Homo sapiens: one gene and its partners. The protein of the gene in region 3 interacts with the protein of the main gene of each other region in a biochemical or structural test. Each region holds a gene or a part of one and is shown on either strand. Other genes may lie near its edges.

Region 1 (7,022 bases), on a different chromosome or scaffold from region 3:
AAAAATACATTTGGCCAGGTGCAGTGGCTTATGCCTGTAATCCAGAACTTTGGGAGGTCGAGGCAGGTGGATTATTTGAGGTCAGGAGTTCAAGATCAGCCTCACCAACACAGTGAAACCCTATCTCTAGTAAAAATACAAAATTAGCTGGGCGTGGTGGCACATGCCTATAATCCCAGCTACTTGGGAGACTCAGGCAGGAGAATCGCTTGAACCCAGTGGGTGGAGGCTGCAGTAAGCTGAGATTGCACCATTGCACTCCAGCCTCGGCAACAAGAGAAAAACTCCGTCTCAAAAAAAAAAAAAAAAGGAATACATTCAATCATGTTAAAGGAACCAAAAAATCTGAACTTAATTTCTTAAATTGCAATGCAATGAAACTCTTGTAACATTTACCAACTTCCTTTTTATAATAATCAATCACTGGCAAGGAAGTCTGTTTTCCTGACAAAATCCTTAAACCAGGAGTTTTATATTTGAGTACCCCTTGGAACCTAGCACAATAGCAGCTCAACAGATCCTTGTCAAATATTACAAACTTAAACTTTCTATACTTACGTTTCCTACAGGTCTCTCAGTGCCAATGTTTAAAGTAGAACTTAAAAGGCCGGGTACGGTGGCTCATGCCTGTAATCCCAGCACATTGAGAGGCTGAGGCAGGCAGATCACGAGGTCAGGAGATCGAGACCATCCTGGCTAGCACGGTGAAACCCCATCTCTACTAAAAATACAAAAAATTAGCCAGGCATGGTGGCGGGTGCCTGTAATCCCAGCTACTCAGGAGGCTGAGGCAGGAGAATTGCTTGAACCCGAGAGGCGGAGGTTGCAGTGAGCTGAGATTGCGCCACTGCACTCCAGCCTGGGTGACAGAGTTAGATTCCCTCTCAAAAAAAAAAAAAAGTAGAACTTAAAATAACATGGTTTCTCATTTATAAAGCATCAGACATTATGAAGCCTTTTTTTTTTTTTTTTGAGACAAAGTATCCCTCTGTCACTCTGTCGCCCAGGCTGGAGTGCAGTGGCGTGAACTCGGCTCACTGCAAGCTCCGCCTCCCAGGTTCACACCATTCTCCTGCCTCAGCCTCCCGAGTAGCTGGGACTACAGGCGCCCGCCACCACGCCCAGCTAATTTTTGTATTTTTAGTAGAGACGGGGTTTCACCATGTTAGTCAGGATGGTCTCGATCTTCTGACCTCGTGATCCGCCCGCCTCAGCCTCCCAAAGTGCTAGGATTACAGGGATGAGCCACCGCGGCCGGCCGAAGCCTTATTATAAGATATTTCTGATATCAGTCATATATTGTGATGTCAACAAAGCCATGAAAAATCAGTGAGTTAGCACATAAAGCACAGAATATAATAGAGTGAGCTGGAAAGAACCTGAGAAATCATATTCAAAACATTCAATAGATAAGTGAGGAAACCAGGCCCAGGGAGATTTAAGTGAGCTGCCCAAGATCACAGAATTTAAGTGACCAGTAATACCAATGGTAGAACGCAGGTTTCCTGAATGTTGGCTCAAATACCTTTCCACAAAGAACTGCTTTGTGAGCTTGAGATGAAATGGATATGCTGAGAAATATTTTAAAGATATTTTAAATACTTTAATAATACTTTTAAATATTTTTTAAATTGCTTTATAGTAGCTATCACAAATCATTCCACCATCTCCTTCCTTTCTCTTGATTATAAAAAAGAACAGGACCGGGCTCAGTGGCTCACGCCTATAATCCCAGCACTTTGGGAGGCAGAGGCGGGCAGATCACCTGAGGTCAGGAGTTCAAGAGCAGCCTGGCCAATGTGGTGAAACCCCGTCTCTACTGAAAATACAAAATTAGCCAGGTGTGGTGGGTGCACGCCTGGCCTCCCGAGTCCCAGCTACTCAGGAGGCTGAGACAAGAGAATCACTTGAACCCAGGGGGCAGAAGCTGCAGTGAGCCAAGATCGTGCCATTGCACTCTAGCCTGGGGAAGGCTCCATCTCAAAAAAAAAAAAAAAAAAAAAAAGAAGAAGTGATTTTATTTCCTTTGGATATATACCCAAAAGTGGCAATGCTGGATCATATTTTAGTTCTATTTTACCAGTATCTTCCTATTCAGTTTTTTTTTTTTTTTTTTTGAGACGGAGTCTGGCTCTGTTGCCCAGGCTGGAGTGCAGTGGTGTGATCTCGGCTCACTGCAAGCTCTGCCTCCCAGGTTCACACCATTCTCCTGCCTCAGCCTCCTGAGTAGCTGGGACTACAGGCGCCCGCCACCACACCCGGCTAATTTTTTGTACTTTTAGTAGAGACGGGGTTTCACCTTGTTAGCCAGGATGGTCTCGATCTCCTGACCTCGTGATCCACCCGCCTCGGCCTCCCAAAGTGCTGGAATTACAGGCGTGAGCCACCGCGCCCAGCCTCAGCTTTCTTATCTAACAATTCACCTGCTCAACTTCATTCACTCCCTATTCTCTTACTGCTTAACTTTATGTTCTACTTTTTTTTTCTTACCCAGTAGTCTTCCTTCTCTCCTGACCTTTTAAAGTGATCTGTCTTGTCCTCATGTTTTCCTTCACAATACTACTCTCAACTTCTCTCACCTTGTGGATCTAGATAACATTTCTTTTCTTTTTTTTTTTTTTGAGACAGACTCTCACTCTGTTGCCCAGGCTGGAGTATAGTGGCACGATCTTGGCTTACTGCAGTGTCCACCTCCTGGGTTCAAATGATTCTCCTGCCTCAGCCACCCAAGTAACTGGGAATACAGGCACATGACATCACACCCTGCTAATTTTTGTATTCTTAGTAGAGATGGAGTTTCACCATGTTGACCAGACTGGTTTCAAACTCCTGACCTCAAGTGATCCGCCCACCTTGGCCTCCCAAACAAAGTGCTGGGATTACAGGTATGAGCCACCGTGCCTGGCCAAGATAACATTTTAAGTCATGAATTCATTTCCTTTTCTAAAGATTTAATAGGTATTATTTTATTTGATCCACACAACAATGCCAGGGATGGAGACAGGAATCAATACTTACCTATTTTACAGATGTATAAACTGAGGTCTGGCAAGATTAAATAACTCGCCGAAAGTCACACAGCTTGTCAGTGGCAAAATCAAATCGGAACCCAGATCTTTTCTTTCCAAGTCCTCTATTCTTTCTGCACTGAACCATGTTGTCTTTTTTTTTTTTTTTTTCCGAGACAGGGTCTCACTCTGTCACCCAGGCTGGAGTGCAGTGGCGTGATCATGGCTTACTGCAGCCTCAACCTCCTGGCTCAAGTGATCCTCCCATGTCACCCTCCCAATCAGCTAGGATTACAGGTACACGCCACCACACCAGCTGATTTTTTTTTATTTTGTGTGGAGTCAGGGTCTCGCCATGTTGTCCAGGCTGGTCCCAAACTCTTGGGTTCAAGTGATCCTCCCACCTTCGCCCCACAAAGTGCTGGAATTACAGGCATGAGCCACTGCACCTGGCCATGTTGTCTTCTTTTTCATTACCCACCTCTTAATCCTACACATGCACATGTCTAGATAGTATACAGAGATAAACGTGTATAAAACAACACAAATAGAAAAAGTATGCATATGTATAAGGGATCTACAAAAACAGAAAAGTCAGAAAACCCAAATTAAGAGCACAGTGTGGCTCACAGGCTAATCCCTGCAGAGGCAGCTTTGGGTTTCAGAACCAAGTGAAGCTGCCTATATGTTCAACCAACTGATGCAGCTAGCATCAACACTGCTCTCTCCTCACAGCAGGTATAAGACCAGAGCTTGGCCTCTGCATCACTCTTGCCCCCAATTTCTCTCACAGGATGACACCATACCTGAAGTTCTCACAGTTTGAGTCACTTCCTTGGGTTAAGGCGTTGTCTCCACAAGGCCACCGTGAAATGCATGGTACCTGAGAAAGGAAGGAGAGTCCATTAACACATTACTTCTATATTTTTTTGTTTGTTTGTTTTTGAGATGGAGTCTTGCTCTGTCGCCAGGCTAGAGTGCAGTGGCATGATATTGGCTCACTCCAACCTTCGCCTCCTGGGTTCAAGCGATTCTTCTGCCTCAGCCTCCTGAGTAGCTGGGACTACACTACGGGCGTGCACCCCCACGCCTGGCTAACTTTCGTATTTTTAGTAGAGATGGGGTTTCACCATATTGGTCAGGCTGGTCTTGAACTCCTGACCTCGTGATCCACCCACCTCAGCCTCCCAAAGTGCTGGGATTACAGGCGTGAGCCACCACACCCAGCTGACCTCTATAGTTAAACACATCAGATCTGCAACGACCTTGCGACTCTAAAAGCACAAAGTCTCTTTTAAAAATTTCATGGGATAGACAATTTTTAATGGAGCAGACAGGACAAAAGAAAGAACTGAGGGAAAATGATTCATACGTATTATGGGAAGACACCAATCTGAGTATGACGGCTATCTGGCAAAATGAGGATGGCCATATAAATACACCAGCCTATAAGGGTCACCATAATGATAGTCCCTGCAACTTGGAGACTCCTAGGGACAGGAAAAGAAAACGCACACCAAGGATCTGGATATAGTCAGTTCTGAAAAGAAGCAAAAAAGCTGAGCTGGCAGCAGTTTTTCAAGGACAGTACACTGCTAGACTGGAGGAGGATAGAGGCAGGAACAGCTTCTGGTTAACTGCTTCTAGTTGTGAGGATAGTTTCCAACTTAACGTTTTTAGCTGAAAGCCAACCTCCCAACCAGAGAATGCTGCAATTCAATTCTGTGAACCCCCTAACTAATTTATATTGACTCAAAGCCAGTATCATTTACAGCCATAAAAGTCAACATGCCTTTACTGAGTGCTTATTATGAGCCCAGAATTTGGCTAAGTACTATAAATACAAAAAAAAAAACCTTACATACTTTTGTCTTAATTCTTATAAAGGAAACCAATGTCCAAAACCCAAAACAGAGACTTAGGCAACAAGAAAGAAAGTGGCAAAACAACAAAACAGATGACTATTTCCTATCAGTACTAACACGAATTTTTTTTTTTTTTTCTTTTGAGACAGAGTCTCATTCTTGTTGCCAGGCTGGAGTGCAGTGGCACAATCTCAGCTCACTGCAACCTCCGCCTCCCAGGTTCAAGTGGTTCTCCTGCCTCAGCCTCCCAAGTAGCTGGTACTACAGGTGCATGCCACCACACCCAGCTAATTTTTTGTATTTTAGTAGAGATGGGGGTTTCACCACGTTGGCCAGGATGATCTCGATCTCCTGACCTCGTGATCTGCCCGCTTCAGCCTCCCAAAATGCTGGGATTACAGGCATGAGCCACCGCGCCCGGCCCTAACACAAATTTCTTAAGACAGAATGAATATAACAAAACTTACTTCTAGGCCAAAATTCCTTGTTAAACTCTTGCCTAAACAGTCAAGACGCATAGGCTAAAAATCTCCCTTTTCTTTTTCTAGTCTAATACCAGAAGCTCTTCAGTAGTGCACATTGATCTTTGTAAACCAGAGAATACCAGTCCCAGAGTTGCAAAACCCAGTTCTAGTTCTAGTTCTTACTCTTAACTAGTTTCAGGTAAATTATTTAACCTTTAAAACAAACAAACAACAACAAAACAGAAAACTAAGAGATTGGACTTATCTAAGAATAGCATATATTTGGCACATGTCTACTACCTACTAGGTAACTGTCCACAGGAGACATCATTGATCAACCATAATACAATTTCTCAGAGCACCTACAACCAGAATCCTTCCAAACACAGTGCTTCTGGCAGCTTCCAATTAGAGCTGGCCAATAAACCAAAATATATTTGCCATTATGGACTAGATAATCTCTGTAACTTCTCCCAACTCTAAAACTCAATGAGCAAGTTTCTACAGGCTGAGAGAAAAACACTCCCAACAAGCCTAGATCAATACTTTTTAGAGGCATAAATTTCAGTCCAAACTCCAAGTTCTAAATTAGCCAGGCTTGGTGGCATGCACCTCTAATTCCAGCTACTTGGGAGGCAGCTACTTGGGAGGCTGAGGCACACGAATCGCTTGAACCCGGGAGGTGGAGGTTGCAGTGAGCCGAGATCACATCACTGCACTCCAGCCTGCATGGCCGAGCAAGACTCCATCTCAAAAATAGTAACAATAACAAACTTCAAGTTCTCTTCCAAATTACACCTGACATAGTTCTTTCTAATTTCTCAAAGATGCTAATGAACAATTCACTCTCATACTATACATAACATATATAACCTGGCAATATTATTCAGACTTGCTAATGGGTTCTTTTGACAGAAAAGGAGCCCTTTACCCAGATTAGCTCTAAAAAAAAATCCTCATCTAGAAATATGGCAACAATATTGCACTAGTAAAAAGCTAAATCCAATCCTTTGATCATCCCCACAACCTCTCTCCAAGGTCAGGCTTTGTCATTTCTCAACTAGACTTCTGCAATAGCTAGTCCCTCATCCTTTCGCTCATCACCAGAGCAATCTTTCTTTTTTTGTTTTTTGATACCTATCTTTGTCCTGCAGTACACAGCAATTTTCTAAAACACATATGTACTCACATCATTTCCCTGTCGAAAAATCTGCATCTATTTCTTTTTTTTTTCCTTCCTTTTGGTAAAGACGGGATATCACCATGTTGCCCAGGCTGGTCTCAAACTCCTGAGCTCAAGCGATTCACCCGCCTCAGCCTCCCAAACTGTTGAGATTACAGGTGTGAGGCACTGAGCCCAGCCCTGTATCTATTTCTACCAACATAAAATTCCAAATTTTTAGCATTATACTTAAAATTTTTAGCCAGAGCACAGTAGCTTACACCTGTAATCCCAACACTTTAGGAGGCCAAGGTGGGAGGACCACTTGAACACAGGAGTTAAGACCAGACTGGGCAACGTAAAGAGAACCTTTCTCTACAAAAAAATTTTAAAAATTAGCCAGGCATGCTAATGCATGCCTGTTGTCCCAGCTACTCAGGGAGGCTGGGGTGGGAAGATCACTTGAGCTCTGGAGGTCCTGTCACTGCACTCCATCCTGCGTGACTGGGTGAGACCCAGTCTC
Region 2 (7,218 bases), on a different chromosome or scaffold from region 3:
CTGGTGGAGCACATGCAGCTCTCTGGCATACACAAAGCTGCTCATGCAAGCCGTTCCCATGACCGTCTTCACTCGATATTTGAGGAAGTCCCCAGTCGCATGCCTCTGCCATCACAGAGGCGCAAATCTGTCTGGAGGCTTCTCCCAAGGCCATACGTGCCTCCCACATCTGCCCAGACACAAAGGCCTCTGCTGCCGCGCGTACCTGCAAAGGCCTTATCCCCGCCGGTGAGGACAATGGCCCCCACGGCCGGGTCCTCCTCGAAGGTCTTCAGGGCCTGGTTGAGCTCGTCAATCAGGCCATCGCAAAGTGCATTGAGGGCCTTGGGGCGGTTCAGTTGGATCAACCCCACGGTGTTATTCTTCCCTCTTTTTTCTGCGATGATGTACTCAAAGTTAGCACCTGGAGCAAGAAGGCAAAAAGGGGTATCTATTCACACAGGTATCAAACTGGGGAGAGTGGGGGAAGGGATGTGGCCCCATCGGTGGATACAGTGTGACCCCAAGAGGCCCTCTGAGGGCTCCCTGCCGAGTCCTCAGTGGCTCCAGGTGTAGCTCTCAGCCACAAGGATAGATGGTAGCCTTGGTACCATTCTCTCTGCTTTCACATGTGTTTGAACATGTCCTAAAGAAAATCCCCGGGCCGGGCGCGGTGGCTCACGCCTGTAATCCCAGCAATTTGGGAGGCCGAAGCGGTCGAATCACAAGGTCAGGAGATCGAGACCATCCTGGCTAACACGGTGAAACGCCGTCTCTACCTAAAATACAAAAAATTAGTCGGGTGTTGTGGCGGGCGCCTGTAGTCCCAGCTACTGGGGAGGCTGAGGCAGGAGAGTGGCATGAACCCAGGAGGTGGAGCTTGCAGTGAGCTGAGATCATGCCACTGCACTCCAGCCTGGGTGACAGAGTGAGACTCCGTCTCAAAAAAAAAGAAAAGAAAAAAAGAAAAATCCCCAGCACAGAACACAGCCCACAGCCGCTTTCCTTCTCCTAATATGCCTTGGTCAGCTCTTCCCAGGACACCACTCTGGAGACAGCCCTGGACTCTGCTGAGACAAGGCACCAGGAAACACCTTCTTTCAACAAATGCCAACAGGTGAGGGGGTGTAAGGCAGCTCCTTGCACTTGGTACCGCCCCAGTGCCAAGACCTCTGGCCAACTGGACGCAGGGTGGGGGATGTGAAAATCCTGGGTGTTCCTGCAGCATTAAGATCAGGCACAGGTCCGGAGCAGCAGGCCAGCCCGAAAATGGGAGACGCAGGCGCTTCTCGGTTGGCCTGCTGCACAGGACCTGCGCCTGCTGGGTGGACAGCAAGGTGGGAAGGAGACAAAGGACAATGGCGTTCCAGGGGTGAGAAGGTGAACCTGAAAAGACAAAGGTAGCCTGTGTGTTGGATGCTTGCCTCCGTTAGTGGCAGAGCAGGGATCATAGTCCCTGTGCTATGGGTTTCTTTTTTTTGGAGACCGAGTCTCACTCTATTGCCCAGGCTGGAGTGCAGTGGCGCAATCTTGGCTCACTGCGACCTCTGCCTACAGGGTTCAGGTGATTCTCCTGCCTCAGCCTCCCGAGTAGCTGGGACTACGGTCACACACCACCACACCTGGCTAATTTTTGTATTTTTAGTAGACATGGGGTTTCACCATGTTGGCCAAGGTGGTCTTGATGACCTCAGGTGATCCACCTGCCTCAGCCTCCCAAAGTGCTGGGATTATAGGCATTAGCCACTGTGCCCCGCCGTATCCTGTGGGTTTCTAGGGGTAACTGGAAGATCACAGGTGAAGTGTCTGGCAGCAGTGCCCGCCATGCAAGATCCAGGAAAGGGCTGCTGTCAGGGTGGAGAAGCCGAAGGCCAAGGAGAGCATGGAGATGAAACCAACACAACTCAGTGGTCCACTGCTACACAGGGTGAGGGAGGAAGAGGAAGCAAGAGTTCTTCCCCAGCCCAAGGCATGGCCCAAGATTCCTCAGATACTAGAGCCGGTGATGGCCGCTCATGAGTGGGGCCCCGGGTGAGCCACGAGGGAGGAAGAGGGCAGCCCCCTGTGGCTGGGGAGGAGGTGTCAGCTTTTCCCTTAGGACCCTCTGAGGGGTGGCCCTGGTCAGGAGGCACCCAGGACAAAATGCACCTGCATCTCCTGTTCTCGGGCTGGCCGGCTGCACAGGAGCTACGCCTGCTCTTAGAGCCGAGGGAACACCCCGGATTTTTACAACCCCCACCCTGCGCCCAGTTGGCCAGAGGTCTTGGCACTGGGGCAGTACCAGCCAGCCGCCGGGCCTCCCGCAGGACGTGGCCTGGTGAGAGTGGCCTCCTGCAGAGCCAGGCAGGGGGTGGGGGTGCGGGCCAGGGTCAGGTGGGTGGTGTCGGTGCGGGGTGGCGGGTGGTGGGGGGGTGTTAAGCCTGGGTCAGGCTGTGGGTGCGGGTCAGGTGGGGGGTGCAGCACTAGGCGAGGGGGGTGTTGCAGGCCTGAGCCAGGCAGGGGCTGCGGGTCGGGGTCAGGTGGTAGGTGCGGGGTCAGGCAGGAGAGTGCGGAGTCAGGCCCTGGGGATGCGGGATCGGACGGAAGAGGGGTGCGGGGTCAGGCCGGGGGGTGCGGGGTCAGGTGGGGGGGTGCGGGGTCAGGCGGAGTGGGGTGCGGGTAGGGGTCAGGCCGGAGGGTGCGGGGTCAGGTGGGGGGGTGCGGGGTCAGGCGGGGGGGTGCGGGGTCAGGCGGAGTGGGGTGCGGGTAGGGGTCAGGTGAGGGTGCGGGGTCAGGCGGAAGAGGGGTGTGGGTTGGGGTCAGGTGGGGGATGCGGGGTCAGGTGGGAGGGGGGTGCGGTCTGGGATCTGGTCTGGGCGTGCAGGTCGGAGTCAGGAGGAGATTCGGGCCGCCAGCTCTCACCGCGCACTCACCCGAGGCGAAGGGACGCCAGGCGGGACAGCGAACCGGGGGCCTCAGCGGGCCGCGGACGCAGGACAGCAGGACACGCAGGGCGGCCATGGCTCTCTGGACTCCTCGCCCGGCCCCGCGGAGCCGCCCCCTCGCCTATAGCCTTTCAGGGCTCGCTCCGCCCACAGGCCAGCGCCGCGAGACCAGGCGGCCCTCGCGAGATCAGCCCGGGCAGAGTGAGCGGGTCGCTCTCCGCCAGGCCCCGCCCCCAGGCCCGAGCTGCCGCTCGCGGATCTAAGGCCGAGGGGCGTCCCCGGGACCCCGCCCTGGGCTGGGACCAGCGCCCTCCAGGCCCCGCCGCAGTCGCCCGCGCCCCCGCCCCCGCCCCAGCCCTCGGGGTCCCAGCTGGCCCCGGGGAGACCGCGCGGAGGCGGAGGCAACGGCGGCGCCTGCCGGGCTCTGCGCCGCCTCCCCCCGCCCGCCTGCCCGCCTGCCCGCCTGCCCGCCTGCCCGCCTGCCCGCCTGCCCGCCTGCCCGCCGGCGTCTGTAGCAGCGGACACAGCGCGCCCAGGCGCAGGGCCAGGCACGGTGGCAGCGGCGTGGGCACTGAACGCCACATTAGGAGGAGTTTTATTTTCATGCACACAAGACTTCAACAGATTTAAATAATAAAAATTTCATTCATTTAAGTTATTTTATTTATACCTTTTAAATATCTAGACAAGTATTGTGGAGCATCCATTTGTGTACTTGCCCGGATTCTGCAAACGCCAGGGTGGAGATAAAACCACCCTGGATAAAATGGAATGGAAAGCGAAACTGCTATTGTGACCGGTGGAGGGTGTCCAGGTTCTTGACGTCTTGAACAAAGAACTGGACAAAACGCACAAACAAAGCACGGAAAGAAGGAAGCAACAAAAGCGAGATTTATGGAAAACAAAAGTGTGGCCGGGCGCGGTGGCTCAGGCCTGTAATCCCAGCACTTTGGGAGGCCAAGGCGGGCAGATCACCTGACGTCAGGAGTTTGAGACCAGCCTGGGCAACATGGTGAAACCCCCCTCTCTACTAAAAACACAAAAATTAGCCGGGCGTGGTGGTGCACGCCTGTGGTCTTAGCTACTCGGGAGGCTGACGCAGGAGAATTGCTTGAATCCGGGAGGCGGAGGTTGCAGTGAGCCGAGATCGCACCACTGCCCTCCAGCCTGGGCGATAGAGCCAGACTTCGTCTCAAAAAAGAAACAAGAAAAGACAACGAAAATAACTCCACACTGTGGGAGCGGCTGAGCATAGCGGCTCAAGAGCCCCGTTACAGATTTTTTGGGGGGGTTAAATACCCTCTAGAGGTTTCCATTGGTTACTTGGTGTACGCCCTGTGTAAATGGAGAGGACACTTCTTGTCATAGCGGAAGTGTTTCCATTTGATTTAGTTCTAGGGAGTCAGCATGAATTGGCCTCCAGACCCTGTTCTCCTGCCTCACTATGTTCAAGAAAATAATTCAATTCAAACCAAAAATGAACATGCACCAAAATTTTATTTCAAGACCGAGGGTAAAAATGAAGACATCTCGTGTAAGTAGAAACAAATCAACAACAAACCTCAACAAACCTTTAGTAAACGATGCTCTATACTAGTGTAGTTAAACCTCTGGGACAGACAGGCCCAAAATGAAATGGCTCAGACAGAAAAGAGGTTTATTTCCTTCCTTCCTTCTCCTTCACCTTCTCTTCTTTCCTTTCTTTCTTGTCTCGCTGTCACCCAGGCTGGAGTGCAGTGGTGTCATCCCGGCTCATCATAGCTTGCGCCTCCCGGGTTCAAGCGATTCTCCTGCCTCAGCCTCCTGAGTAGCTGGAACTACGGGTGCTTACCACCATGCCCGGCTAATATTTGTAGTTTTTTAGTAGAGTCGGGAGTTTTGCCATGTTGGCCAGGCTGTTCTCGAACTCCTGACCTCAAGTGATCCACCGGTCTCGGCCTCGCAAAGTGCTGGAATTACAGGAGTGGACCACCGTGTCCGCCAAGAGGTTTCCTTTCTAACGACCCAGGAGGCCGGGCAGCTCCCGTCCTCCATCAAGTAATGTAGCCACAAAAGCACAAGCAACAAAGGGAGAACATATGTAAATTGGATTTCACCAAAATTTAAAACTTTTATGTCTGAAAGGACACTACCAAGATAGTGAGAGGACTGAACAGACATTCCTCCAATGAAGATAATCAGTGTCAGATAAGCTCAGCATCACGAATCATTAGGGAAATGCAAACTGACCCCTCAGTGATACGACGTCACACCTACTGTGCTGGCTGCAATAAAAAGCCCAACAGTCACAGCGGGTTGTGGGGGACGTGAGCGGGGAACGCTGGTACACTGCCAGCGGGAATGGAAAATGGTGCAGTCACTTTGGAAAACAGTCTGTTGTTTCCTCAAAAGGTCAAACAGCAACTCCACTCTTAGGTGTACACCTCAGAGAAATGAAGACAAATGTCCACAAAAACTTAGACATGAACGTTCATAGCAACATTATTCATAATAGCCAAAAAGAGGGAAAAAGCCAATTGTCCATCAACTCATGAATGGATAAACAAAATGTCATATATCCAAACAATGGATACATTAGAATGTATTAGACTATACAATGGACTCTATTCAGGAGTAAAAAAGAAAGAAGCGCTGATACACATTACAAAATGGACAAGCCTTGGAAATGTTATGCTCAGTAAAAAAAGCCAGACACAAAGGCCGTGCATTGAATAGGTTCCATTTCTATGAAATGTACAGAACAGGCAAATCCACAGAGACAGAAACTAGATTAGCGGTCACCAGGGGCTGGAGGGAGGGGTAATGGGGGGGACTGCTGAGGGGCATCCCCATTTGCTTTTTAGGGTGATGAAAATGTCCTAAACTTGGGGCCAGGCGCAGTGGTTCACGCCTGTAATCCCAGCACTTTGGGAGGCCAAGGCAGGTGGATCACCTGAGGTCAGGTGTTCGAGACCAGCCTGGTCCAACATGGTGAAACTCCGTCTCTACTAAAAATACAAAAATTAGCCGGGCGTAGTGGCACATGCCTATAATCCCAGCTACTCAGGAGGCTGAGGCAGGAGAATTGCTTGAACTTGGAAGGCAGAGGTTGCAGTGAGCCAAGGTAGTGTCACTGCACTCCAGCCTGGGCAACAGAGCAAGACTCCATCTCAAAAAAACAAAACAAAACAAAAAAGTTCTAAACTGGATGATGGTGACAGTGGCACAACTCTGTAACTAAACTGAACACCATTGAATTGAACACTTTAAACGGGAGAAGTCTTACAGCATGATGTCTATATCAATAAAGCTATTTTAAAAAATGAACAAGCCTGATTCAGTCAAAGCCACATGGGTAGTTGCCACCTTGATCACCATAGGTGGCATCACCCAAGGCCCTCTGGAGCTAGGAGAAGCACATACCTTGTACCAGTCAGATGGAAAAGAGGTTGTGTCCGTGTGTTCCAGCTGGTGGCTCTGGCATGGCAGGATTGTCCAGGACTGGCCGTGGTCACGTGCACTCTCCATTTCAGAGCAAGGGGGACGAGCGACTAACCCAGCCCCAGGTCAGCGCGTCAGCGGCCCGTGCTATTGGATTCAGGCTGTGGCACCACATCCAGGGGACAAAGAGCGCGTCGGTTGTCCCCACCCTGCAGCTCTTGGGTCCATGTCTTCTCTCTCCGCGCCATAAAGCCAGAGTTCCCATTTCAGTCACTACAATCACCCCTCCTTGCACCAGGCCTTCCAGGTGTGGGGCATGGGCATGTTTACCTCTGGCCTGTGTGGACCGCTGTGGGGAGGCTTGGCCAGCAAGTTGCTGAGCCAAGTATCTTTTATGGGATCCTGCCGCTCCACAGGAGGATCCGGGAGGCTGAACTAGAGTTAAGTTAGAATCTTTCGGTTCCCCTTCGGGCTGGGCTCCCCGCAGGAACCAGGAACGGGCTGGCCAGGAGGACATGATGGACCGGGAGAAGGTGACAGAGGCAAAGCCAGACCCTTCCTGTTCCATCTTGCAGAGGCTGTCCCAACGCGAGGTGAGGCCAGGTGCCTGGGGGACATCGATGCCTGACCAGAGCCCAGCCTGGACAGCCTTCCAGCAAAGGCTGGGCACTGGCCGACCGTAACGGCCCAGGAGAATGAGGACACGGGAGTCTCGGGGCTGGAGGAGCTGGCTGACCAGATGGTGCCTGACACGGTGCTGAAAACAGGGCAGCAGTCCCCAGAGGCTGAGGGGCCAAAGTAGCCTGTCCACCCAGAGTGGCGAGGCCCACGCCTGTGCAGGAGGCCTGAGGCATGGGGTGGCCTCCCTCACAGCTGTGCCCACCCAGCCTGTGCG
Region 3 (7,575 bases):
AAATCACTTTACCAGTGGAAGACTCTGCCCCTGGAGCAGTTTTAAAATTCTAGTTACTATTTTGGCTTATATTCTAAGGTAGAAGTTTTAAGATGAGGTAATTCAAATTTTGCTCAATCTTTGCCCTCAAACGGATCTTTGCTTCCTCCTGCTTCTTTTGGGTCCAGAGAGGTGCCAACAAGTGATGATTACAAGTTACATGTCTTCATTATACACCCTAAAGAGGGCATCAAGAGGTTTTCAGCAGTAATGATGGTTTAAATGATTTTTCAAAACCTCATCAATTTCCTTTTGCCAACTATTTATACCTGCATTAATGAATAAACCTAAACATTTAATGGAAAAGAAAATAGATGGGTGCGGTGGTTCACGCTTGTAATCCCAGCTCTTTGGGAGGCCGAGGAGAGTGGATCACTTGAGGTCAGGAGTTCGAGATCACCCTGGCCAATATGGTAAAAACCCATCTCTACTAAAATTACAAAAATTAGCTGGGCATGCTGGTGGGCGCCTGTAATCCCAGCTACTTGGGAGGCCGAGGCATGAGAATCACTTAAACTGGGGGAGGTGGAGGTTGCAGTGAGCCAAGATTGCACCACTGCACTCCAACCTGGGTGACAGAGCAAGACTCTAGAGAAAAGAAAAGAGAAGAACCTGTCATTCATTCTACAAATGTCTTATTGAGTTCTTTCTATGAAGAGGGAACTTCATGAGTTTGTGAAGCTGGTGGGGGAGCAGACAGCTAAGTAATTGCTATAAAGCTTCTGACAGCAGAGAAGCCCAGATATTTTAGGAGGCTTGGGAAGGACTGTCGATATCAGTTAGAAGTTAGAAGTCCCTTGCAAGCAAAGCATGCTAGACATGCTCATTCATATCACCTAGTTCCTTTTTGAAACAAAATCCTGGTCAAAATGGTTAGCCCATGATTCTAGAAATCTCTTGAGTGCTATTTGCATCCCTTACTAGCATTGGCTTTTGCCTATAAAATGTGTTTAATGGGTTTGGGGGCATCCAAATATCTTGGAGCTGCAGGCCAGAGAAATATGTTGTTCTCAATCCCAGATGAGCCCAAAAAGGGTGGAGGAGAGAAATGCTCCATGAGTCTGAAACCACAGGTAAGTTAGGGTTGTCCATTCCCCATCCAGTCACTCTACCACCATGCACGGGGTATCTCCCTGTACAGTTATGGGAATGAGGGCACAGCAATAAGCAAGACAGATCAGTCTCTGACCCCAAGAGCTCCAGTGGAGACCACAAGATAATTAAGGAGAAATTAAACAGATAAAGAAGGAGTACAGAATGGGGACTGCAGGGAGGCTGCAGAGTGAGGGATGTGAGAGGGAGCGTGGGTTTTCAGAGGGTGACCAGGGAAGACTTTCTGAGGCTGTGTGAAGAGTCAGGAGGCAGCAGTGCAGGGGACCAGTGCTGGACAGCAAGCTCAGCCAGTGTGGCCTGGGGCAATGGCCTGGTGGTCCGAGACAGCAGAGGCTGGATCAGCTGGGGGTGTGAGGAGAAGGAGGTCTCCTGGATTGCGTGCCAGTTGCAAGGAGAAGCTACTGAAGGACTCCATAAAGAGGACTGATATGGTCTGATTTACCCATTTAAACACACAGACACACACAGACGCACGCTGCTATATAGAGAATGGAGGAAGGGGGAACTGAAATCCTACAGTAAAGAGATGCTGGTACCCTGGACAAGGGGCAGGGTGGGGGGTGGGGGCATAAGAAAAAGGGGACAGATCAGGACACATTTTAGACATAGATTCAACAGACTGAATGTTTTTTATCTGAGGATCCGAGTTGACTGCGAGGTCACTGCCAGAGACATCGACTTTTGGGAGAGGGAAAGGTTTGGCTGACCGCAAAACCTCCTTTAGGAACAAATTAGGTGTGAGGTTAGTTTGTTATATTATTTTCTCTTTCAGGACATAGGCAAAGATGAAGAGAATCAAATCATAAAAGGCGTTTAATGTTAACATTTTCCAAAATTGTGCATGTTCTAGCTATCCCTTTAATGTCTGGGCATTTTGATACCCTGTGAGTGGCTGGCAAACTCTATCATTAGTGTACACGGTGAGAGGTTTGCTGAAAGCTATATGCCCCCGTTTCTCTACCTGTTGCAGGGGAAGTGTTCGTGGGAGAAAAACTTCGCGGCCTCATACTGTGAAGGGGTAGGTTGAGATGGCCACGGGGGTTCTCAGATTCTCCACCAGCGTCTCCTCGCTGACCCCGGCCTTCCTAGGCTTCCTTCCCGCGTCCCTGCCTGCCAGGAAGGTCCCCTGTAGCTTGCAGAGACCATGGTAGACAGAGCAGTTGTATCTGCGCCAGCCAGAGACCACCTGGGCAAGAAGCGTGACCCAGACATCGAGGAGGGTGAAGCCTCGCTGGGCCGCCCCGCAACCCCAGGAAGCCCCGGACCAGCGAGAGGCTCCCGGGCGGTCTCTTGCCGACACCCCGGCACGGGCTCACCCGCGCGCTCACACTCCGCCCGCTCCCCGCTAAGGGACTGGGTTCGCTCCAAAGGCAGAGGAAACCTATGGGCTCCCCGGCTCGTGTCTCCCGACTCGTGTCTCTTGCCTCCGCTTCCCAGCTTTCCCGACCCTGCCCGGACGGGGTTTCGGGGTTCCCTGCTCGGGCCCCGCGCGCTCCCCTCCCACAGGCTGGCTGGGCTCCGGGCGCGGCGGGAGGCAGCGGGGACGTGAGACCGGGGTCGCCCCACACGCCCTCCGCGCCCCTCGGGCCGCGGCCCCTGCGCAACGGCCCCCCGTGCCCGACCACGCGGCCGCCCGGAGCGCAGGGGCCCGCGGGCAGGCAGAGGCCGAGGCTCCCCGCGGGCGCCGGGCGCGGGCTCTGGGTTCCCCGGGCGGGGCCGGGAGGCAGCCAGGCCGCCGGGGGGCGCCGGCAGGAGCGGCGCTTACCTGAGGCGGCGGCGGGGCCGGGTGCGGGCGCTCCGGGACGCGGGGCCGGGCGGACACACTGGCGGGGCCGGGGCCTGGCCGTCCCACCGCCGTCTGCCCCCCGCGCCGGGGCCGGGCCCAGACGCACTTCCTCAATCCTGAGGCGGGCGGGCGGGGAGGGCGGCGCGAAGAGCGCGCAGAGCAAGGCCGCCGCCAGCTCTCCCAGGAACCGTCGCGAGGCGTCCCCTCGGCGGCCGCCTCAGTTTCCCTGGCCGTAAAACGCGGGCGATGGCGCTCGATGCCCCGGGAGACGCCGGGGTCCGCGGGCCCTTCCGGCACCGGGTCCTCCTTCAGGTTCGGGCACCCGGCTGCCTCCACGCGGGGCGAGCGCGGCGATGGGATCGGTCCGTGCTGCGCTCAGCCCCGCTTTCGCTATCCCTCTGCTCCAGGGGCAGCAAAATCAGCAGATGAGCCCCCAGCGCGCCTGCGGCCCACACACTGCGGCCGTAACAGTTAAACAGACGGGGAACATTCATGTGCGTAGAGCTCTTCACGGGGCGATACAGAAATGTGTCGTTCTAAAGCGTTAACGACCTGCAATTTGCATATCCTCCAACACATGGATTTTACTGATTCAATTATGGATGTGTGCAAAGAATCTGCTGCTCGGTGAGTCATTGTTAATTGTCGGCTTTGGGGGGAATACATAAAACGTGGAATATTGGCAATTTATCGTGTTTCGACCTTTTATAAAGGCGTCACCAGGCTGCTGAGGCTAATACAGAAACGCAGACCATAAAAAAGATCTGCGTCCACGCTGCAGGCGGGCCTCACGCTGAGCTCCCCGTGTCGACCCGGGGACAAAGCCTGCTCAGGAAGAGCAGAGGGTTCCACGCCCTGCAGGACCAGCGCCCTGGGCCCCTCTCCTGGAAAGTTATGACTCGCACGTTCCCAGGATTTAGCGCACATCTCCCCCACCCTCACTGCCATTTCACAGAACCGGGGCAGCCGCAGGGCTCCTGCAGGACCTCCCGGACGCCGCGGGGCCGTGTTCCCTTGAGCGGCTTCTTGGGTCCCTGGTTGGAGAGGGGACCACCGAGCAGCTTCGCTCTGCTCCTGGGAGGCTACTTCTGCCACTGGACGACTTTCCAAAAGGGTGAGCGCAGTTCTGCAATCCTGTTCTCACCCCTGAGGGCCTCACACCAGTTTGCAGGAGCCAGCAGTGTGATTGCCACCGACAAGTTCCCAACAATTTGCAGGGCGTGGTGTCCTCAGTGCTGAGAGAGCCCCGCGACGGCGGTGCAGCTCCTCCAGGGCGCGCAGCCCCGCCACCTGGCGCCACCGCGAGGGAGCGCAGGCCCAGGGCCCGGGCAGACGCTGGAGGGGACGCGGCAGGTGAAGATGGGGCACCTCCACTTCCCTTCTAAAGGAGCCTGGGAATAGGCTAGGAAATGTCCCCACTGTAGAAGACAGCAGGAACATCTGACACGCGGATAACCTGTGCTGAGCTCGTTATATTCCCAGCATTTAATTCTAGCCATTAGGCATGCGTTAGCCACAACTTCGCATAGGAAGGTTATTGCAGGTAAGTTAAGACTCCTTTCCACTTCTTCCTAAGGGTCGCTGACCCATGGTTCTCTAGCTTTTGCTGGTAATCCCACCCAGATTCTCAGCACCCTAGGTTGGAATGACCCCTCCTGAGGTGGGTGGGGTAGCTGGGAGGCACCTCCCTGAACTGACTTTTCTGCCTTTTTGAAGGTGCAGTGGCTGAGCGCTCCTTCAGTGTTTTCCGGTTGTCTTTCTTCAGCCCAGTACGCAGTTTCCTCAGACAGTCTTCCTTGAGCAACTTCCTAAACGCCCTTCATTATCCCCCTTCAAGCTCATGCCTAGGAGCAAGGAGCAAAGCCATTAGAAAGGCTTCATCCACCAGCAGGAGAAGCTAGGACATCCCAAAGGGTCCACTTCTAGAGAGGTGCCAACCCCCACACGCACACCAGGCACACAAATGCATGTGTGCACACGCATACCACACCCTCCAATTGTCCCCAGAATGGCTCCCTTCAGGGAGTCATGTTCCGGGACACCAAATGAGGGAAAATATCCTTCTCCTACAGTTTCCTGCTCACATTTGGATTGAGAAATGGGATGTCTCTAAATAATGTGTCTAAATTCTCTTAACATAAGTGCATATGTTACGAGAGATCTGATCCCAGCCTCCCTTTTTTGTTAAAGTGGTGGTGCTTTGCCACCCATGTCAAAATGATCTGGGCTTTCCACATCAAATGCAAGGGATGAGCTTGGAGGACATACCCCAGTACCAGCAATGATCTTGAGCCAATGGCAGCGTCAGCTCACAACGGGGTGATTGAGGCTTCTTGGTTAGAAGCTTTAGAAACTTGAGGTCAGTAAAACCCAAATTGATCCTTTCTCTAGATCCTCTAGATTTCTCTAGAGGAAAAGGTGACAAAAACAGACACTTGTGCTCACCGTCAGGGGCACAATGCTGTCCGTCAATCCTCATGCAGTCCTCCCCACCATTTCGCACACTGACACCATCACTACTTTATGATAAAAGGAGACTCAGGCAGCTTAGATAACAGCTGAAACTCAGCCAGCTATGACATGGAACCTCTGAGGCCCAGCTCCTTGCCTGGTCAACCCCCAAGCCCACAGAAATGGGTTTCACACTCAGGCAAAGCACTGGGCCCGACTGACTGAGCAAATGTAATTTTATGCTTACATTATTGATCCTGCTTTAATATCAGCCATTTCGTACAGGTCTCAGAAAGAGAAAGGCCTGCCATCGAATTCAAATGACTTTGGTCTTTAAATGAAAAAGCACAATGTTTCTCAAATATCCAATTTTATTTTATCATTCTCGCATTGTGGGATGCGATCTGCAGCTAGGATCGGAATTCCCAGGCCTATAGATTTTTAAACCACACCACAGGGGTAAACCTTAAAAGAAGTGAAACCTAACACTATATATATTTCCATTTCTAAATACAGTATATTACAGAAGTTTAAATATACCACCTCTGTGTACTTACAACTATAAAAAGATACAATAACTCTACCAATTATAAATAATGTAGCATTTCATATTAAAGACATTATCGTACAATGGAAGAATAGGAACCCTCTAACGTATCACTATCAAGGTTAGTGTCTATATCTACTTGAGATAAAATACTGAAAATTCAGTGTATGAAGCCAAATCCTGATTTAACAAGTTATTGGTAGTATAAGTGATAAGTGTTAGCTGATGAAGGGAAGGCAAATGTGGTAATTTATATCTCTGACAAGGGTGATAGGCCCATTTTATACATGGTTTTCGTTATACACACACTGGTTCTGTTACGGGCCCTCATTTTATTATTGCCCTCCCCAACTTAATTTGCAAACTTAAGCACTACTTTCCCAATTAGGAAAGTACTAGTTAGTAACCATAAAAGTATCCGTCGGATAACACATTTGTTTTTGTTTTTGAAGCTATATGGGAACACTTTCAGTTTCCCAAGTTAAAACATGAAATTGCACATCATCATTTGGATCCCCAAAGAGGAAAAGAAAAATTCACAACCTGCCAGTGAAATACTCAGGCCACTTGGATGAAGACCGAGGTCCTCCATAGAATCCAGGTGTTATTTACTAACTAATCAGAAATTAATATCAAAATAGGACTTAAAAATAACAAGGCTGTGTTATTACAGCAGTCTTTCCAGTTGTGTACGCTTTACTAATCTAAATTGGGTAACAGAACTGGAGAAAAGGAAGACTACACAGACTTATCATAAGCTGTTAGTGAACGTGATAGAAATGCGTAATTTGTTAAAGCGAATTACAGCTCTGATTTGTCAAATGAGGAGGTGAATTATCCTAGGATTTGCTATGCTGTTGTGGCGTTAGAAGATTGGATCTTTAGCAGCAAAGGTAACCTCAACAATATTTTCTGCTTAAGAAAGTGCCTTGGTTAAGGTAGACCGTGATATCGTCTTTGACTAAGCTCTCTGGGCTATTGATTCTGTCATATTCCAAAGGCAGTATTGGTTTGAAGCCGAATCTCACGGTCAATGTCAACATGCAATCCACAAAGACCCTGGCGCCCTTCCACGGTATGCACTAACCAAAACTTTCTCACTGTGAAATCCTTTTTTTAAAAACAAGAAAACAAAAAACAAAAACCAAAAAACCTTACTGTGAATCCTTTCCCAAGGAATGGTCCCACCTTCACCTCGGAAAGAGGCGTGGCTTGCTCTGTAAGCAGGTCCACCCTGAGGAGACCGCTGGTGCAAGAGCCCTGCTTGCAGAACACACAGGGGGTTTTCCCACATTCTTACTGGAGTCAGATTCGGCAAAGCATTTCAAGCAACTGCTGGACACTTCAAATACCACTCCCTGTTAACAACGCCCTGAGTATCTCACTGTCTCCAGGATCTGGTTTAAAGGGAAACACAGAAATGGCCAACAGCTCCCTCCCCAGGCAGGACTGCGATTTCACAGACAACCTATAGGCATCCCCAGTCTGGTGAATAAACAGGAGAGTGAGAGGAAAACAGCAATCATTCAACTCCAGTAGATGTAAAGCCTCCAGAAGAATGTGTCCCGGGAAGGTCAGAAATGTCATTTTTTTCCTCCAGCACATTTCATCTGCCACATTCCGCCGTCCGATGTTTGAG
Region 4 (7,022 bases), on a different chromosome or scaffold from region 3:
ATGGACCAGGCATAGTGGCTCACGCCTGTAATCCCAGCACTTTAGGGAGACCGAGGCGGGTGGATTGTTTGAGTCCAGGAGTTCGAGACCAGCCTAGGCAACATGGTGAAACCCTGTCTCTACAAAAAAAAAAAAAATACAAAAAATTAGCCAGGCGTGGTGGCACATGCCTGGATTCCAGGAACCTGGGAGGCTGAGGTGGGAGGATGGCTGGAGCCTGGGAGGTCAAGGCTGCAATGAGATGCAACAGAGCAAGACTCTGTCTCAAAAAAGAAAACCAATGTTATGGTTTGTAGGGTGTTTCTTAACCCTTGCCTGGCATGGCCTTAGGTCCTGTTTATAATTTGGTATCTTACTGCCACAAAGAGTCCGATCTGTCAGTCTTATGATCTCTGTTTTAATGTTAATGCCGGTCAGTTGTGTCCAAACTCCAGCAGGAAGAGGGCCTAATAAGGCAAGTCCACCCTGCCTTCCTGTCATGGCCCAGAATTCTGTTTTTAAGGTTTTTCTGGTGTCCCTTGGCCAAGAGGGGATCTATTCAGTTGGTCCGGGGACTCAAGATTTTAGTTTCAGTTTACAACTCTATACACAAACACCCCATACACACAGGCACCAATACCCTATGCACAGACACCACACAAATGCATACTACACACTTACACATACCACACACACGCATACCATGCAAGCATATCATACACACAGACACCCCATACAATGCGTACACATGCACACACACACAGGCTGCCTCAAATTGAGAAGGGTTCCTTGGACTTTCAGTTCAGTAAATCCCAACGTTTGAACATTGGTGCTAACTTAGGACCAGCCCCAGGCCTGTTGCATGGCACTGTATGTGTGAAAGTGCGTGTTTGCACCAGTGTGAGTGCAGGGCTGTGTCTGGGAAGAGGTGTGCTACACATGAGGAAGCAGCCAGAGCAGCTTGGTGGTCATTGTTGTGCCCCTACCTGCAGGGCTGGTTCTCAACCGGAACCTCTCCATCTCGGAGAACCGCACCATGCAGCTGGCGGTGCTGGTCAATGACTCAGACTTCCAGGGCCCAGGAGCGGGCGTCCTCTTGCTCCACTTCAACGTGTCGGTGCTGCCGGTCAGCCTGCACCTGCCCAGTACCTACTCCCTCTCCGTGAGCAGGAGGGCTCGCCGATTTGCCCAGGTGAGCCCATACCTATTGCCTGTCTGGGGAAGATTGAAAGGCCAAGGGACATGGGGGCACAGGGAGGCAGGTGACACTGCCTCTTGGCCCAACCAGCACAGAGTAGACTGGGTGGAGTCCTGAGCCCAGGGCCAGGAGGTACAGCTGTGTGCACAGAAGAGGCCTGGGAGAGCTCACAGTGGGCAGGGCTGGGGGCTCCTTGGGCCTCTCTTTTTTTCCCCTTTCCATTCTTGGTATCTTTAAAATGTATTTTCAAAAATGCAAGAGCAATACTGGGTAAATCTGCATATGGTGACTCGGAAGAATCTTCCTGGTGGATTGGTGAGAGTGGCTTGCAGAGATGTTGGTCCCACGTGACTCCCTTTGTGCAAAAGCAGATCTTCCCTGACAGGGATCTGCAAGTGTGCAGAGATCACAGTGCTGTCCACAGTGGTGCCCTCAGGGGGAGGCAGGAAACGCTTCCACTTTTTACTTTTTGTAACTAGGTTTGCTAGAAAGCGTATATTTATATTTGTCTTTGGAAAATAATGATTAGAAATAGAAGGCATAAAAGTAATAAATATTCATTAAAGAAGATGAGGCATGAGGCATGAGGCGTGATCCCTTCTACCCATAGGCGCCAGTGTTGCACATCGTGGTGTTCTTTCTGGGATGTTTCTCGTAAGCACTTATTAAGTTGACTTGAAACTGCAGCACGCATGTTCTCGCATGCCGCTCTCCCTTGCAGAGCAGCCCGTGGCGCCTCCTCTTCAGGGGCCATCTGCCAGTTCTTTCGGGTGGTTCTGTGCCCGCATCAGCTCCTGGCAGCCACCCGTGTCCAGCCCACGAGGGAGCCCACCCTTGGACATATCTAAGCTCCCCGACCACCTCCTTGGCCTTTAATGGGAGTGGGATCAGAGACAGAGGGGCGACAAGACAGAGGGCCCCGGGGGGTCTCATGGGGGGCGGGGCAAGAGCAGGCATTGCTGAAGTTGGGTCACCTGCCCTCTGTCAGGAGCAACGGGGGCCTGAATCCCAGTCCAGCCTCAGCCTCACTGTGGTCTCACCTTTCTCCCCAGTTTGTAAAGCTGTGAATTAGGGACAGGAACCCTGAACAATTTTGAGAGTCACATGAGCATTTGGAAGTGGGCTTTGTAGGGGAAAGTGAGGAGGCCCAGGAGGCTGGTTTTTGCTGTGGTCACTTGTGGGCCTGGGAGAGCCCAGCCCTGCTCTGGCCCGCCCCCATCTCGCCATCTGTGGAACTTTTGGTTTCAAGCAGCTGCAAGAGTTGCCAAGAGGTTGAAAGAATTCAGCTGCCTGACTCCAGGTCCTGGCATCCCCAGGAGAGGCCCCTCTTTCCCAGGGGCTCTGGTCAAAGTCCCAGAGCCTGGCATCCCCAGGAGAAGAGGCTCCTCTTTCCCAGAGGCTCTGCTCAAAGTCCCAGGGAGGCCCCCTGGTCCTGCATGGGCTGGGGCAACCATGCTCCCGAGTCTTGTGGCTGGGGTTCAGTGCTCTGACCAGGGGACACCAGGGCAGGGTGGACCTCTAAACCCTGTGCACTGAGGGAGGAGTGAGGGGTCCCCAGAGCACTGCTGGGGCAGCTGGGAGCAGCCAGGGAGGAGCCTGGGAGACATTCCGGCGGCTTTGTTGTCTGAGTGAGGGAGGAAAGGGGAGTAAAGGGTTGAGTCAGGGCCTGCCTGGGGCTTTTCCTGCCACCAAACTGAACCTCGAGGCCCTGGGTTGCCTTGACCTCCAGCTCCCAGGAACAGGGGCAGCTGGTAACATGTGGCCTGAGTGGAACGGGGCAGGGCAGGGCTGGGGCAGGTGGGTGGGTATGAAGGCTCTGAGGGGTGGAGGACAGGGTGCTCGGGGGGGCTGCTGTCTCCAGGCCCAGTTGGGGGCTGTTCCAGGACTTAGGCTGTGTGGGAATCTCTACCCTCAGGCCATTACAGGCCGGTCCAGCTGCCTGGCTAAGGTGTTCCCCTGTGCCCCCCTAGATCGGGAAAGTCTGTGTGGAAAACTGCCAGGCATTCAGTGGCATCAACGTCCAGTACAAGCTGCATTCCTCTGGTGCCAACTGCAGCACGCTAGGGGTGGTCACCTCAGCCGAGGACACCTCGGGGATCCTGTTTGTGAATGACACCAAGGCCCTGCGGCGGCCCAAGTGTGCCGAACTTCACTACATGGTGGTGGCCACCGACCAGCAGACCTCTAGGCAGGCCCAGGCCCAGCTGCTTGTAACAGTGGAGGGGTCATGTGAGTGCCTGCTCCAGGGAGGGAGGGTCGGGGTCCTGGGGGCTTCTGGAGCCTGGGCCTCCTGCCCTTTGAGAAAAGCAGTACAGCTGCAAGGCTTAGCTGGGGAGTGGGGAAGGCATGGACCAGCTTCACCCTGAGTGACCCAGCAGTAAATGGTTGCTCCTTCCAGATAACATACAGGACCTTGGGTAAATTTGAATTTTGGGTAAACAACAAGCAGTTTTTTGGTATAGGTGTGTTCCATGCAACTTTTGCAGCTTCTCGAAAGACACACCTCTAGGTCCATCCATGCCCTCTTAGGAACATGCTGACACAGCTGCCATTCATGCCATTCATTGTGTATCTGAAATGTAGGTCCCACAGGGCGTCGTTGGCTGAATCTGGCTGCACTCACATCCTTCCTCCTGTACTTACCCCAGCCCAGGTGACCCCTGCTTTGTGACCATGATGTCCTGTACCCTGCCCTGCGCCCTGTGCTCCTGGCACTGTCTTTGCTGCCCTGGGTCTGTCACTCCGGTCCCCTTGGGCTCCATCCGTGGGCAGCTCAGCTGGTGCTGTTCCCTGTCCTTGGGCACTAGCTGGACGCTGGGCCCAGGCCAGCCCCCTGTGACCCTGCTTGTCTGCCACCTGCAGATGTGGCCGAGGAGGCGGGCTGCCCCCTGTCCTGTGCAGTCAGCAAGAGACGGCTGGAGTGTGAGGAGTGTGGCGGCCTGGGCTCCCCAACAGGCAGGTGTGAGTGGAGGCAAGGAGATGGCAAAGGTAAGCCCTGGAAACGCCCAAGGGAGGCCTGCAGGGGCGATGGCACCGGTGGAAACGGGGTCCTGGGGCCCTGCCAGCCTGGGGTGGCTCTCCCTGCTCCAGGTCTGCTTCTGGCACCTCATCCCCCATGTGGCTCTCGATGCCAGCATAGCGGGCAGCAGTGCAGGGCTTGGGAGAGGGCTTGTGAGTACAGTGAATGGTCCCCAGGCCGGATTCACTCTGGACTTGGGAAGGTCTGAACCAAAGTTGGGATGTGCTGGGGACAGAATGGCGTTTTTCTGGGAGGTCCTCGGCCAGGGGATGTGGTGTGGGCAGGGGACTCATTGTCTGCATCAGCCAGAGGCCAGCCTGGGTGTGCCCACCACCATGAGGGGCCCTCACCATGCAGCCCTGAGAGGGTCCCGGCCTCTTTGCTGTAAGGGCCACCTGTGTGAGGAACCCCCCATACCTCCTCTCCCATAAGCCATGGCTCCCCAGGATGCTTCCGCTGGCAAGGCTCTGTATATGGTGTTTCCCTACTCAGGCCTCCAGTTGCTCCTCCCTAGAGGGGCAGGATCTGCCTAGGAGGTGGTGGGGGCGTGTGGCGGGGCTCCCACATGGGTGACAGCCTGCTGTGTGTCCTGTGCAGGGATCACCAGGAACTTCTCCACCTGCTCTCCCAGCACCAAGACCTGCCCCGACGGCCACTGCGATGTTGTGGAGACCCAAGACATCAACATTTGCCCTCAGGACTGCCTCCGTAAGCAGGGTTTAATCAGGGCATGGGAACAGGTAGGAGATAGTAGGGGAAACCTGGATCCCACAGGCACTTCAGCCAGAGTTGCCAGGGCTGTCAGTTCTATGCATCAAGCTGAGCCTCCTGTGCATTTCAGCATCACCCTAGCCATGGGGAGGGAGCAGGCAGGGTCAGGGACAGGGGGAAGGCAGGGACCCACAGACTGTCCAGGCCCCTGCTGAGGTCCCAGAAGTCGGCACACACAGATTTCAGAAGCAGAGAATGGTCAGTAGGGACACTGACAGGGAAAGTGCGGCCCTGAGCCAGACGAGGGACACTGCAATGTGCGGGTCAGGCCACCAGGCTCCAGTTTTGGAGGCAGAGTCCTTTGTTCAGATGAAATGTTAGGAGGGGGCCTGGCTTCACCCATGGCTTCAGAAAGGCACTGTGACCAAGCCCTGCCCGGCTAAGCCAAGCTGCTGGGCCCCTGGCCTCACTGGGCCTATGCTTGCGACACCAGTTGGGGAGGGGGCTCCTTGGGACACTGCCCTGGAAATATGGGCGCCTGGGGTGGTCAGGCGCCCCAGGAGGCTGAGTGGGCTACGTCTGCCCTCAGGGGGCAGCATTGTTGGGGGACACGAGCCTGGGGAGCCCCGGGGGATTAAAGCTGGCTATGGCACCTGCAACTGCTTCCCTGAGGAGGAGAAGTGCTTCTGCGAGCCCGAAGACATCCAGGGTGAGTGGGTGGCGGCCGGGACCACCACCACCTCCCAGCCCCACAGAGGTCTCAACAGCACATCTGAGGTCCCAACAAGGGAGGAAATTGCTGGGAGGCGAGTGGGCCCCATGAAACTTCCCTCCCTCCCTCTGGGCCTCTGTTACTCCACCCAGGAGAGGGGCCAGGGCCCCTGTAAAGTGTCTTCTGGCCATAAGTTCTATGATGGACAGGCCAGAAAAGCAGTTCTTCCACCAAACAACTTGTCAGCCTGACAAGTCACTGTCCCTGTGACCATGCAGCTGGGACCCACCCAGGAACACATTTCAAGGTCAGCAGGTATGGTGGGTTGCACAGCCACACTGACTACACTCAGGGGTGCTGTTCTGCCTGAGCATAGGGACACGTTTCTGTCATTGAGTTTTCTGGTATTATATAGCCCTACGTCCCTAGCCACTTAGCATTTTCATAAAGAAAATGCCAAAGACATTTGGAACAGAGGAAAATTTTGACCTCCCCTGCCAGCCCTCCAGTGCCAGCTGGTGTAATGAGCACAGCCTCTGCTGTGTGACCTTGGCAGGCTGCTCAGCCTCTCTGAGCCTCTGTCTCCATCTGTAAGAGGGCAATAGTGGTCTAGGAGGGGGCAGTAAATGGCAGTACCCATGCTCGATGGGGTGTTCTCAGGCCTTCCCACACCTCCATGGCCACTTCCCAGCTGGCGCGGACACGGCAGGCTGGAGAGCCATGAGGCAGAGCATACGCAGCCTGTACCCAGTGGTGCCGAGCCTCTGGCGGTGCCAAGCCTCACACCACCCCCACCCACAGATCCACTGTGCGACGAGCTGTGCCGCACGGTGATCGCAGCCGCTGTCCTCTTCTCCTTCATCGTCTCGGTGCTGCTGTCTGCCTTCTGCATCCACTGCTACCACAAGTTTGCCCACAAGCCACCCATCTCCTCAGCTGAGATGACCTTCCGGAGGCCCGCCCAGGCCTTCCCGGTCAGCTACTCCTCTTCCGGTGCCCGCCGGCCCTCGCTGGACTCCATGGAGAACCAGGTCTCCGTGGATGCCTTCAAGATCCTGGTGAGGGTCCCTGCGGGGCAGGGAAGATCCCCTGCCCTCCCCAGCTGCCTTCCAGGGAGGGAGGCCAGCTGGGGAGACAGAGGCCATCCTGTGAGGGGCTGCCAACGCTGGGCAGACGAGGCCTGTGTTCTGCCCCCATTTCCATAGGGCGCTGTGTGGGGACAGTCTGTGGGGTGGGACTGTGATGAGGTGCCGTTCCCATCTAGGTGAGAGGCAGTGGTCAGGGTCACAGCATCGGGCAGGGGAGCAGCAGTGTGGATGGAGGGGCACTGAAGTCAGAAGGGGGTGCCTTTCTGGGGAGCCTGGCCTGCAGGTCTGCATGTGCTACTCAGAGCCTCCAGGCTG

The links.
Region 1: the proteins of LRRK1 (region 3) and ITCH form a complex in vitro, tested with the Homo sapiens proteins (2 studies listed by BioGRID and IntAct, with this or other methods).
Region 2: the proteins of LRRK1 (region 3) and ECHS1 form a complex in vitro, tested with the Homo sapiens proteins (2 studies listed by BioGRID and IntAct, with this or other methods).
Region 4: the proteins of LRRK1 (region 3) and RET form a complex in vitro, tested with the Homo sapiens proteins (2 studies listed by BioGRID and IntAct, with this or other methods).

What each region holds. Positions count from the first base shown.
Region 1 is NC_000020.11:34,366,263-34,373,284, reverse strand, and holds part of ITCH (E3 ubiquitin-protein ligase Itchy homolog), read right to left. Parts: intron 3,892-7,022; 5' UTR 3,815-3,891; intron 584-3,814; exon of another isoform or gene 559-583; intron 1-558. UniProt on the Homo sapiens protein: Acts as an Acts as an E3 ubiquitin-protein ligase which accepts ubiquitin from an E2 ubiquitin-conjugating enzyme in the form of a thioester and then directly transfers the ubiquitin to targeted substrates.
Region 2 is NC_000010.11:133,370,355-133,377,572, forward strand, and holds the start of ECHS1 (enoyl-CoA hydratase, mitochondrial), read right to left. Parts: upstream 3,001-7,218; 5' UTR 2,980-3,000; coding exon 2,892-2,979; intron 1,310-2,891; exon of another isoform or gene 1,202-1,309; intron 404-1,201; coding exon 206-403; intron 1-205. UniProt on the Homo sapiens protein: Converts unsaturated trans-2-enoyl-CoA species ((2E)-enoyl-CoA) to the corresponding (3S)-3hydroxyacyl-CoA species through addition of a water molecule to the double bond.
Region 3 is NC_000015.10:100,914,794-100,922,368, reverse strand, and holds the start of LRRK1 (leucine-rich repeat serine/threonine-protein kinase 1), read right to left. Parts: upstream 3,013-7,575; 5' UTR 2,918-3,012; intron 1-2,917.
Region 4 is NC_000010.11:43,108,060-43,115,081, forward strand, and holds part of RET (proto-oncogene tyrosine-protein kinase receptor Ret isoform a precursor), read left to right. Parts: intron 1-971; coding exon 972-1,171; intron 1,172-3,147; coding exon 3,148-3,406; intron 3,407-4,039; coding exon 4,040-4,165; intron 4,166-4,793; coding exon 4,794-4,904; intron 4,905-5,496; coding exon 5,497-5,616; intron 5,617-6,420; coding exon 6,421-6,677; intron 6,678-7,022. UniProt on the Homo sapiens protein: Receptor tyrosine-protein kinase involved in numerous cellular mechanisms including cell proliferation, neuronal navigation, cell migration, and cell differentiation in response to glia cell line-derived growth family factors (GDNF, NRTN, ARTN, PSPN and GDF15).